Linked DNA regions of Homo sapiens: region 2 is linked to region 1. The links come from fine-mapping of genetic effects on plasma protein levels. A gene starts in region 1. The other region holds a variant in brackets. All regions are shown on one strand. Distances are from middle to middle. Region 1 holds the start of CPQ (carboxypeptidase Q). Region 2 overlaps CPQ (carboxypeptidase Q).

Evidence for each region. PIP is the posterior inclusion probability: the model's chance that the variant is causal. Protein levels are from antibody-based Olink assays in UK Biobank. Linkage for the fine-mapping came from a reference panel and not from the study's own genotypes, which makes the PIPs less certain.
Region 2: its variant is fine-mapped to the plasma level of the CPQ protein (UK Biobank, PIP above 0.99). The variant lies in the coding sequence of CPQ. If it changes the protein, the assay may bind it differently, which can mimic a change of level.

The regions. Positions count from the first base shown.
Region 1 is chr8:96,641,068-96,645,463 of GRCh38, reverse strand. It overlaps CPQ (carboxypeptidase Q), which reads right to left and starts at 222. Exons shown (of 8, transcript NM_016134.4): 1 at 62-222. RefSeq lists a silencer at 1-347.
Region 2 is chr8:97,026,829-97,031,224 of GRCh38, reverse strand. It overlaps CPQ (carboxypeptidase Q), which reads right to left. Exons shown (of 8, transcript NM_016134.4): 6 at 1,731-1,822. The region is part of intron 2 of LOC101927066 (a long non-coding RNA gene); the gene reads left to right. Among named protein-coding and RNA genes, the nearest start is that of TSPYL5, 250 kb to the left of the region's middle. The variant C/T (reference allele first, on the strand shown) is at 1,816.

The DNA of each region.
Region 1 (4,396 bases):
GTAGGAGCCAAGGCCTCGGCCCAGCCGCCCGCGGGCACTGCCAGTTCGGCTGCAAACACACCTGATAGGGCGGCTCTGACGGCGGCGACGGAGGCGGCTCCCAGGACTAAGCTCGCGGCCTAGCCTTACGGTGGCGGCGGCCACACCCCTGACTGGGCTGGGGCCCTCCGCGCCGCCCCGTGACTGCAGCCCTGCTTGCCGGCCAGGCCGCGGGGCCGAGAGGCGGGGCAAAGACCTGACTCGGGAAGCCGGGGCGGGCGCCGGGTTCGGGCTGGGGGCCACCTCCGGAACGCCTGGGGGGTTCTCACTCGCCCTCCAAGGGCGACCTCAGGGCCACAGATCGGCCGGAAGGCTTCTCAGCTTCTGGGCTGTGGCTCCTGTTAGAAAATTGAGTGTCGCCCTGGGTCCCGAGCCCCTAGGCCTGACTCCTTCGTGCAGGGGCGTCGCCTTCAGACTGGGTGGTGCGCAGGCCAGGGCCGCGTGCTTTTCAGAAGCGCAGCCTCAGGCGAGGCGGGCGGCAGGGGCCTGAGAAGGCTCATGGCTTGGCAGAAGGGTCCTGTGCTTCAGTGGGTGCCCGTGCAGGTGGAGAAGGACGGGGCTGCGAAGCTGAAAGGAAAACGTGAAAGGTTTTTGTGTGTCTCTGAGCCTGAGTAAAGGCCATGCTTTCTGAGCTGTCAAACGCCTCCCAAAGGGAAGAGATTATTAAACCGTTTTCCCACCCTGCCAGGTGTAGGATTGTTAGGCGGTGATGATGGAAGGCAGAGATGACCCGAACTGAGAGATCAGAAAAAGCGTTTTCTCTTTCGTTTGTGCCTGAATTATATGAGGGTGCCCAAGAAGAAAGGAGACTCATCTGATTACCCGGTGTGGCTTATCTCAACAAGTCACACGCATTCTGGTCACAGAGTATGTGCTCAGTGTTTTCAATGCTTTATGTTTTGATAAGTGCAAATTCCTTTGTTTAACGAAACTCTTATCAAATACAAACAGTTATCTTTGTGAAACACTGAGCAGTTCCAGTCTCTCCTCTTAACTAAAAAAACCAAACAGAACTTTTAATTAGAAAAGAAAAGAAAGAATAAGCACATGCCTACTGGGAAAAAAAAAATACCATAAAATGTGCAAAGTCCACTCACCTTCGGTTAACAGTCCCTCTAAACCTTACTAGTCCTGTTGCCCACTGAAACAAGTGTGAACTCTGAGGCATTGGAGGGTCCACATAAACATGGCCCTGGCCCACCTTTCCCGAATCATCTCTCGGATGCCATATCTAACCCCACTGAATTACTTTTTTCTCAAACTATCAAGGGTAAAAGACAAGTTTTTATTATTTCCAATCTGACATGGACCATTATTTCTGTAAAATACAAATCAAAACCTGCTAGCAAATAAGAAAAGAGACAAAAACTACAAGCCCAGTTTTTATTACAAGTGTACAATGAGTATGCCAAAAAGTATAAAATTAGTTTTTCAATTATTGGTTGTTGTTGTTGTTTTTATTTCTAAATGCTTACTCACAATTTCTATACTTACCTGTTCATGGAGCAGTAAAAAGCTGTTCACTGACTGGCGGTGGTTGGATTACCGTTTAAGTGGCACTGACTTGCTGTTCTTTAATTATGTCAAATGCTTTTCAACTTCTGGGCCTTTTCTCATGTTTAATGTGAACGAAGTTCTTTCCCACTCAAGTTTCAACTCGTAATAACAATAAAAGCTTCACATTTATTGAGTGCCTTGTGCTAAGATTTTTGATGCATTAACTGTGAATTCTTATTTGTCCTATGAGCTACCTATTATTATCATTATTATTTCCCCCCACTGTACAGATAAGGAGATGGAGGATTAGAGAGGTCAAGTCACAAAACCAGTGAGGTACAAAGTCAGCATTAAACTGAGCTGGCCTGATTCTGGAGCCCAAGCAATCAACCAACATGCTGGGCCCCTCTCTGTGAAACCTCCCCCATTTGCTTTCAAGTTGAAATTAATCACTCTTGCTTACACCTCTACTCTAACATTTTTTCCCGTTGGTTTTCATTCATGTCAGCTTCCCACGCTAGGCTTTAAGCTTCTGAGTACAGTGAATTTGTCTGCTCACACTAATCACAGGAAGCAGAGCTCATTCGCATCTTTGCATTACCACTATCTTTTATGCTTACTTCATGATATGTTTTAATTATTTATTCTTGTCAGCATCCTCTACTAAACCATACAATGTTCAGAGTTATCTTACCAAAGATGCTTTTATTTATTTAATTGAATAAGCATTTCTATAGCATGTATAATGAGCCAGGTACTATTCCAAGAATTTTAAAACCTCGCAAATAGACCTATAGATATTATTTTATCCCTCTTTAAACTGTGAGGAAACTAAGGCATAGAGAGGTTGCAGTAAGTTGCAGGACCAGAATTCCAAACCAAGCAACCTGCCTGGCTCCAGAATCTATTTCTGAGCCACCATGCTATGTTGATTTTCCACAATACCATGTGTTCTTCCTACTTAGAACACTTCACTGCAGGGAGATCAATCCATAATGGCCAATTAGAAGCCCCTGCCCGCAGCACTCAGGGAGGAATGAGAAGGGGCAAGTGAATTCAGTACCTTCAACTGAAATATCCAGGTTCTCTCATTGGGACTGACTAGGCAAACCACCGGCCCATGGAGAATGAAGAAAAGTTGGGCAGGGTGGGGAGCCCACCTCGGAGCAGCACAGAGCCAAAGGAACCTCCACCCTCAGCCAAGGGAAGTGGTGAGTGATTGTGCAACCCAGGAAACCATGCTTCTCCCATGAATCTTTGCAACCTGTGGATCAAGAGACCCCCTCATGACTCCACACCACCAGGGCCTTGAGTCTGATACACAGAGCTGTGTGTTGTCTTGACAGAGCAGCCACTCAGGCACATACAAAGAGGCCCAGAAGTTTTACATACTCTGGCCACAATCATCAGCAAGGCAGGAAATCCATCTGTAGGAAGGGGGCTGAATCCAGGGAGCCAAGCAATACCATTCTTCAGGCCCCACTTACATGACACCCCACAAGTTAAGACCCACCAGCTTGGAATCCCAGCCAGCCAATGGCAGTGGATAGGAGTCTGCCTGAGACAGGTTTGAGTTCCCAGCAGGTGGGGCAGCTGCCGTCTCTGTGATTCAGCCGACTCAGCTGCTGCAGCCTCCTGGATGTGGAGAATACAGACGGTCTAAACTAGGAAGGGTTCCCTCTGCTACAATGCAGCACACCTGCCCTACCAAAAAGCAGCCAGACTGCTTCTGTAAGCGGGACCCCAAGTCATTCCTCCTCGCTAGAGAGGACCTCCTTAAGCCCCTCCAGCAACTGTTTTATGAACAGAGCTCTGATCTCTCCCTGGGACAGAGCTCCTGGAGGGAGGGGAGGCCATCATCTCTGCAGTTCAGTAGACTCAGCCATTCAAGCCTGCCAGCTGTGGATAATACAGATGGACCATACAAGGAAGGGTCCCCCACAATGTAGCACAGCTGCCTTGCCAAATTGCAGCCAGACTGCTTCTTTAAGTGGGACCCCAATCCATTCCTCCTCATGGGTGGGTCCTCCCTGCAGGAGCTTCAGTCACTCCAGCCAGGGCGCTATGGAGAGAGCTCTGATATCTCCCTGGGACAGGTTGCCTTGGAGAGGGACAACCACCATCTTTATGGTTCAGTGGACTCAGCTGATCCAGCCTACCAGCTGTGGAGAATACAGGTGGTCCAGACTATGAGGGCCCCACCCACCCCCACTCCCAGTACAGCACACCTGCTCTACAAAAAGCAGCCAGACTACTTCTTTGGGTGGGTCCCTAATCCCGTTCCTCCTGACTGGGTGAAACCTCCCAATGGGGGTCTCTAACCACCTGCTGCAGGTGTATGAGGGCTGGCAACAGATCAGAAACCACCCAAGATGAAGCTTCCAGAGGAAGAAGCTGGCTGCCATCTTTGCTGTTTTGTGGCCTTCACTAGTGATACCTCCAGATACAGGAAAAAGTGAGGCAACTGGGGTCTGGAGCGGATCTCCAGCAAACTGCAGCAGTCAAGTGGCCTGACTGTTAAGAGAAAAACAAACAAAACAACAACAACACCATCAACAAAAAAGACCCCACAAAAACCTCATTCAAAGTCAACAACCTCAAAGATTAAAGGTAGATAAGCCCACAAAGATGAGAAAGAATCAACGCAAAAATGCTGAAAACCCAAAAAGCCAGAGTGCGTTTTCTCCTGCAAATGACCACAACCCCTCCCCAGCAAGGGCACAGAACTGGACTGAGGCTGAGATGGCTGAACTGACAGAAGTATGCTTCAGAAGGTGGGTAACAACGAACTTTCCTGAGCTAAAGAAGCATGTTGTAACCCAATGCAAAGAAGCTAAGAAACATAATAAAACAATACTGG
Region 2 (4,396 bases), 390 kb before region 1:
ACAAAGTGAGACTCCATCTCAAAAAAAAAAAAAAAAGAATAGTTCTTTTAACTATTCTTTTTTTTATATAAAGTCCAATATGTATAGAATTTTAGAGCTTCTTCTTAAAAATAAGTTACTCTCTTGCCTCGAGGATAAAGTCCGCACGTCTAAATATGATTCATATGTTCTTCTTGTTCAGGCTCTTGTTTACGTCTCTGTTCCACCCTCCTACCACTGTGCATCTTGCATTCTATGCAGCAGCCACTCTGAATTCCTTTCCATTTCTCTGGTGTGCTTTCCTCTGTCTCATCTCCTGCCTTTGCACACACAGGTCCCTCTGCCAAGGTGCAGTACCCACCTCCTCCCTCCCTCTCCATTTTCCTTAGCTTACTTCCACTCAGTCTTCAGGTCTCAGCTTAGATGTAATTTCTTTCCCAGAAAGACTTAACACCTTATAATTCAAGTTAATCGTCAGTGTCCTTTAGAATGTAGGCTTTGTAAGGTCAGGGTAGATCTTTTTGATGCTAACATTAATGCATAACATAGTGTATGGAACATAGTACATGTTCAGAAAATATTAATTGAATGTTGCTGAATCTAGAACAACCCTTATATGATGTTGTGGTCTACCACAACACATAGAAAATGATGTTACTGACCTACCAACCAAAGGACACTTGTCTTGAATTATGTTATCCCCAGGATCACCTGAGGCCAAAAGAACTAAAGTGGTGAAAGAGTAGGGCATAGGTCATAAGTTGTCCTTTGTACAGTAAATAATTGTATTCAGTGACCAAATTCATGACTTTGAACTCATTATACTCTAACTGACTGAAATAGGGTAATAGAGACTGACTTTGAAAAAAAAAAAAGGTCAAAAATAACATACACACAATTCACAAAAGAAACCCTTCTCCGATTTGGATAATTTAAGCTTGCAAGATCTGCTTCTTCTCATCTGGACATTCAGGGGAAACCATCCAGCAGCAGCAGCAGACCAAATGCTCCTCTCTGGGCAACCATCACTGCTTGCCAGCATATGCGCGTTGATTTTGGAGTTCCTCTTTGAACTAACATTTGACTTGATCTAGAGTATTTCTCAGCTTGTATATTTTGCTGTCTCAAAATTTGCTCTTGATATTAATCTCCCTATCCCCTCTCTTCCATGTGGTCTTGTATTTCTAATCATGACCATCCACAATAACCTTCCTGCTTCAAGCTTCACACTTGTGTAATGACAGCTGGTGTCAAACCAAGCTGTCCTCCACATTCCTGGGACAGAGGCCTGTGGCTGCTGCCATTTCCACCACCATCATGGCAATGCTCTTGGCAGACTCAATGACTTGGAACCTGGCTCTCAAATGCCAAGGCTTCTGGGAATATGGCGGGCATTGAGGTATGGGGATAGGCTCGGTGGGGAGAGGGAATGTTTGCCTATAACTATTTCTCTGACATACATGAATACAGCAGAACTAGGTAGACTTGAAAAAAATGGCAGCATGGCAATTGGAATTTTTCTTTGGCCTCAGACTGTGGTGTAGAAGAAGAAAAGCCCTCAGCTCTACACCACAGCATCATTGGTTTACCAGTGCATTCTCATTCACAGGGCTGGAGGGAGAAGGCTCATACAAGGGTGTTTCCTAGGGCCAGTTGACCAGAAAGTATTATTGAAGTCTTAAATGGACAATGAGAGGGATTTTTGTATATTACATGTACAAATGCTTAGCAATCCACAGCTGGGTTTTTACCTTGTGTAACTGATAATACTGGAAGGCACCAACTCCACCTTGTTCTTCTGCAGTCCAGAGCACCAGCCGCAGAGTCCTCTTTGGA[C/T]GCAGCCCTGGGAAAATAATAAAATAAAAAAGTGATACTTTAGTTGATTTTGAATTTTATAAAAAAATGGCAGGGTCCCTCATCTGCCTTGTGGAGGAAGGAGGAAATCAGAGGCATTCAACTCTCACTGGTGTGGTTGTCTCCTTCAGGGTATGGCCAGCACAGCAAAGGAGCAACTTCAGGGCTGATCTCCAGGCCAGGTTAATGGAGAAAGGGGTTGTGACAAATGCAGTTTGCAGGCCAGAAAGTGAGAGCCTCTCATCACATCCTTAACTTGATATCCTGCCCAGCAGAACCCAATGGATGGCCAAGATCAGTGAGATATTAGATCATATCTGGAAGATGCAGTTAGGATGACCCCAAGCATATTGTGGGGTCTTTCAATGATCTTAATTGTAATTAAATCATTTGGGTCTACTTCAGGATAAGCCATGTAGATTACTTTTTAGTCTGAATATACAAGCATAGCTAGATGCCCATGCTATCTTCAGTAATGTAATAACTGAAAAGCAGATGCAACAGTTATGCTTCTCCATGGCCAATTTCTTCTCCTACTTGGAAATAGAAGGTCATTTCCTTAAGGTCAATGAAAATTAATTGAATGAGGATGACATTTATTGACCTTATTACTACACAAACAGCTTGGTGGCAATTTTATTGACTTGTGATACACAAATTTGTATCCTGGACTTATTAAATTTTATGGCAGATGAAGTGGCTCCAGAACCATTTTTGGCTGACAATGTCAGCTCAGTGAAAGTTACCTACAAGGAAGCTGTTTCTGAAGTTAAAAAAATGGTGAGAGTATGCCAAAAGTGCTACTTTGTGACCAAGAATTAATATCTGTTCTGACTCAGACTGATAATGGCATTTCTGAGAAATAACAAAGACAGAAAAATGTGAAGCTGTGCTTAAATCTTATTAAGAGGATTCGTTTTCCCACCTCCTCATGGGGAGCCATAGGGAAGGGTTAAAATGGACTTTGAGTGGCTCTGAGATGGACACACCACATATCTCAGGTATAACCACATATGTGCTGCCACCCAGGTGTGTGGCTTTTGAAGGAGCCAGCTGGCTAACTGCAGCCTGGATGACAAATGCTTCTGGGACACAGAGCTCTCTCCTGCCTCTTCCAGGCTCCAAGAGGCACTCTCCTTTCCTAAGCCTAAGGAGCTGAAAAGGAGGAGCTACAGTTTTTCATGAAATTGAATATAGTTGTGAAGTCACTTTGTACTTCAGCATGTTAACATAACTTAAAAAGCATAGGTTTAGGATGCAGGCTGACCATAGTTGCAGTTAAAACATGGACAAGCAATTTCTACATTCAGTTCCTCAGCAATCCCATTGGTGTTTCCATCTAAGTCCATATAAAATCCAAATTCTCATCTTGGCCACTACTGTGGTCCAAGCCCCGCAGTTGTCTGGATTGCTGCAGTGGCCTCCTAACTGGGCTTGCTGCTGAAGCCCTCACCTCTCTTCAGGTGATGCTTCACACTGTAGCCAGGAGGGTCTTTGTAAAAGCTAAGCCAGATCATGTCATTTCTTGGCTCAAAACCTCCAATAACCAGAAGTAAACTTCTGGAAGACAGGGATCTATGCTTTTTATTCATTGTAATGTCGCCAATTCCTAGATTGTTTGACACACATTAGGTGCCCAATAAATGGTAATGAAGGAATAAATAAATGCAAAGCTTAGTGTCTTGATTAGAATGAAATTTGAAGCCACTTCTCCAGTCTCATCTTCTAAAAGTCTTCTGCTAGCTCATTCCCAGGCAAGGTGTTATATTTGAAAAAGGCAGACAGATCTGGTAAATCCTGCTATCATTAGGCACTAGCTGTGTAACTACTGGGATATGTATTTACCTGAACTTATGCCTCTTTATCTGAAAGATGAAGATAATATTATGTGCCTATGCCATAATCCTTTTTCAGATTAAATGAGATATGATAACACATGTAAGACAACCCTGGGGCTGGCATGTAATTGGCATTCAATAAGTGAAAAATAAAACCACATAACACACTTTCACCTCACAGAGTAGAAGGAACATCTAAATGCTCAGAGAGGAAATTCTTCCAAAGGCCTTTGAGTACTTGGAGAAAAAGAATTCTAGAGTGCCCACTACTTGCTCCACCGAGTCAAACCACCTGCCCACATTCATAGCACAAACTTAATAAACTGTTGTCTGAGGAAGAAATCTAATCAGGATTGCCAAAGATAACAATCTTCGGTTTCTTTCAAAGGAATGTGCTTAAAGTCAATTTAAATGAAATTACTTGCTTGTAATATAGGCAAAAATAAGAAAGGATAAAGTACTATTATTGTTTATAGGCTGCAAATAAAAATTCTAAACATTTTTTAAATCCACAAGAAAAGAAAAAAATACACTTTTTTTTACATATCTCCGCACCTACCAGTAAAATATTACCAAATTATTAAAATGACGAAATTCTCTAAATAAGAATAAACAGGCAGCACAGGCTACAGAATATTCATTTTTTAAAAGCAAATGCTCTGAATATCCGTATAGATTTTGTGTGCCAAGTGAAAGTTATTATCCTACAGGGTTAGTCTCCTTTA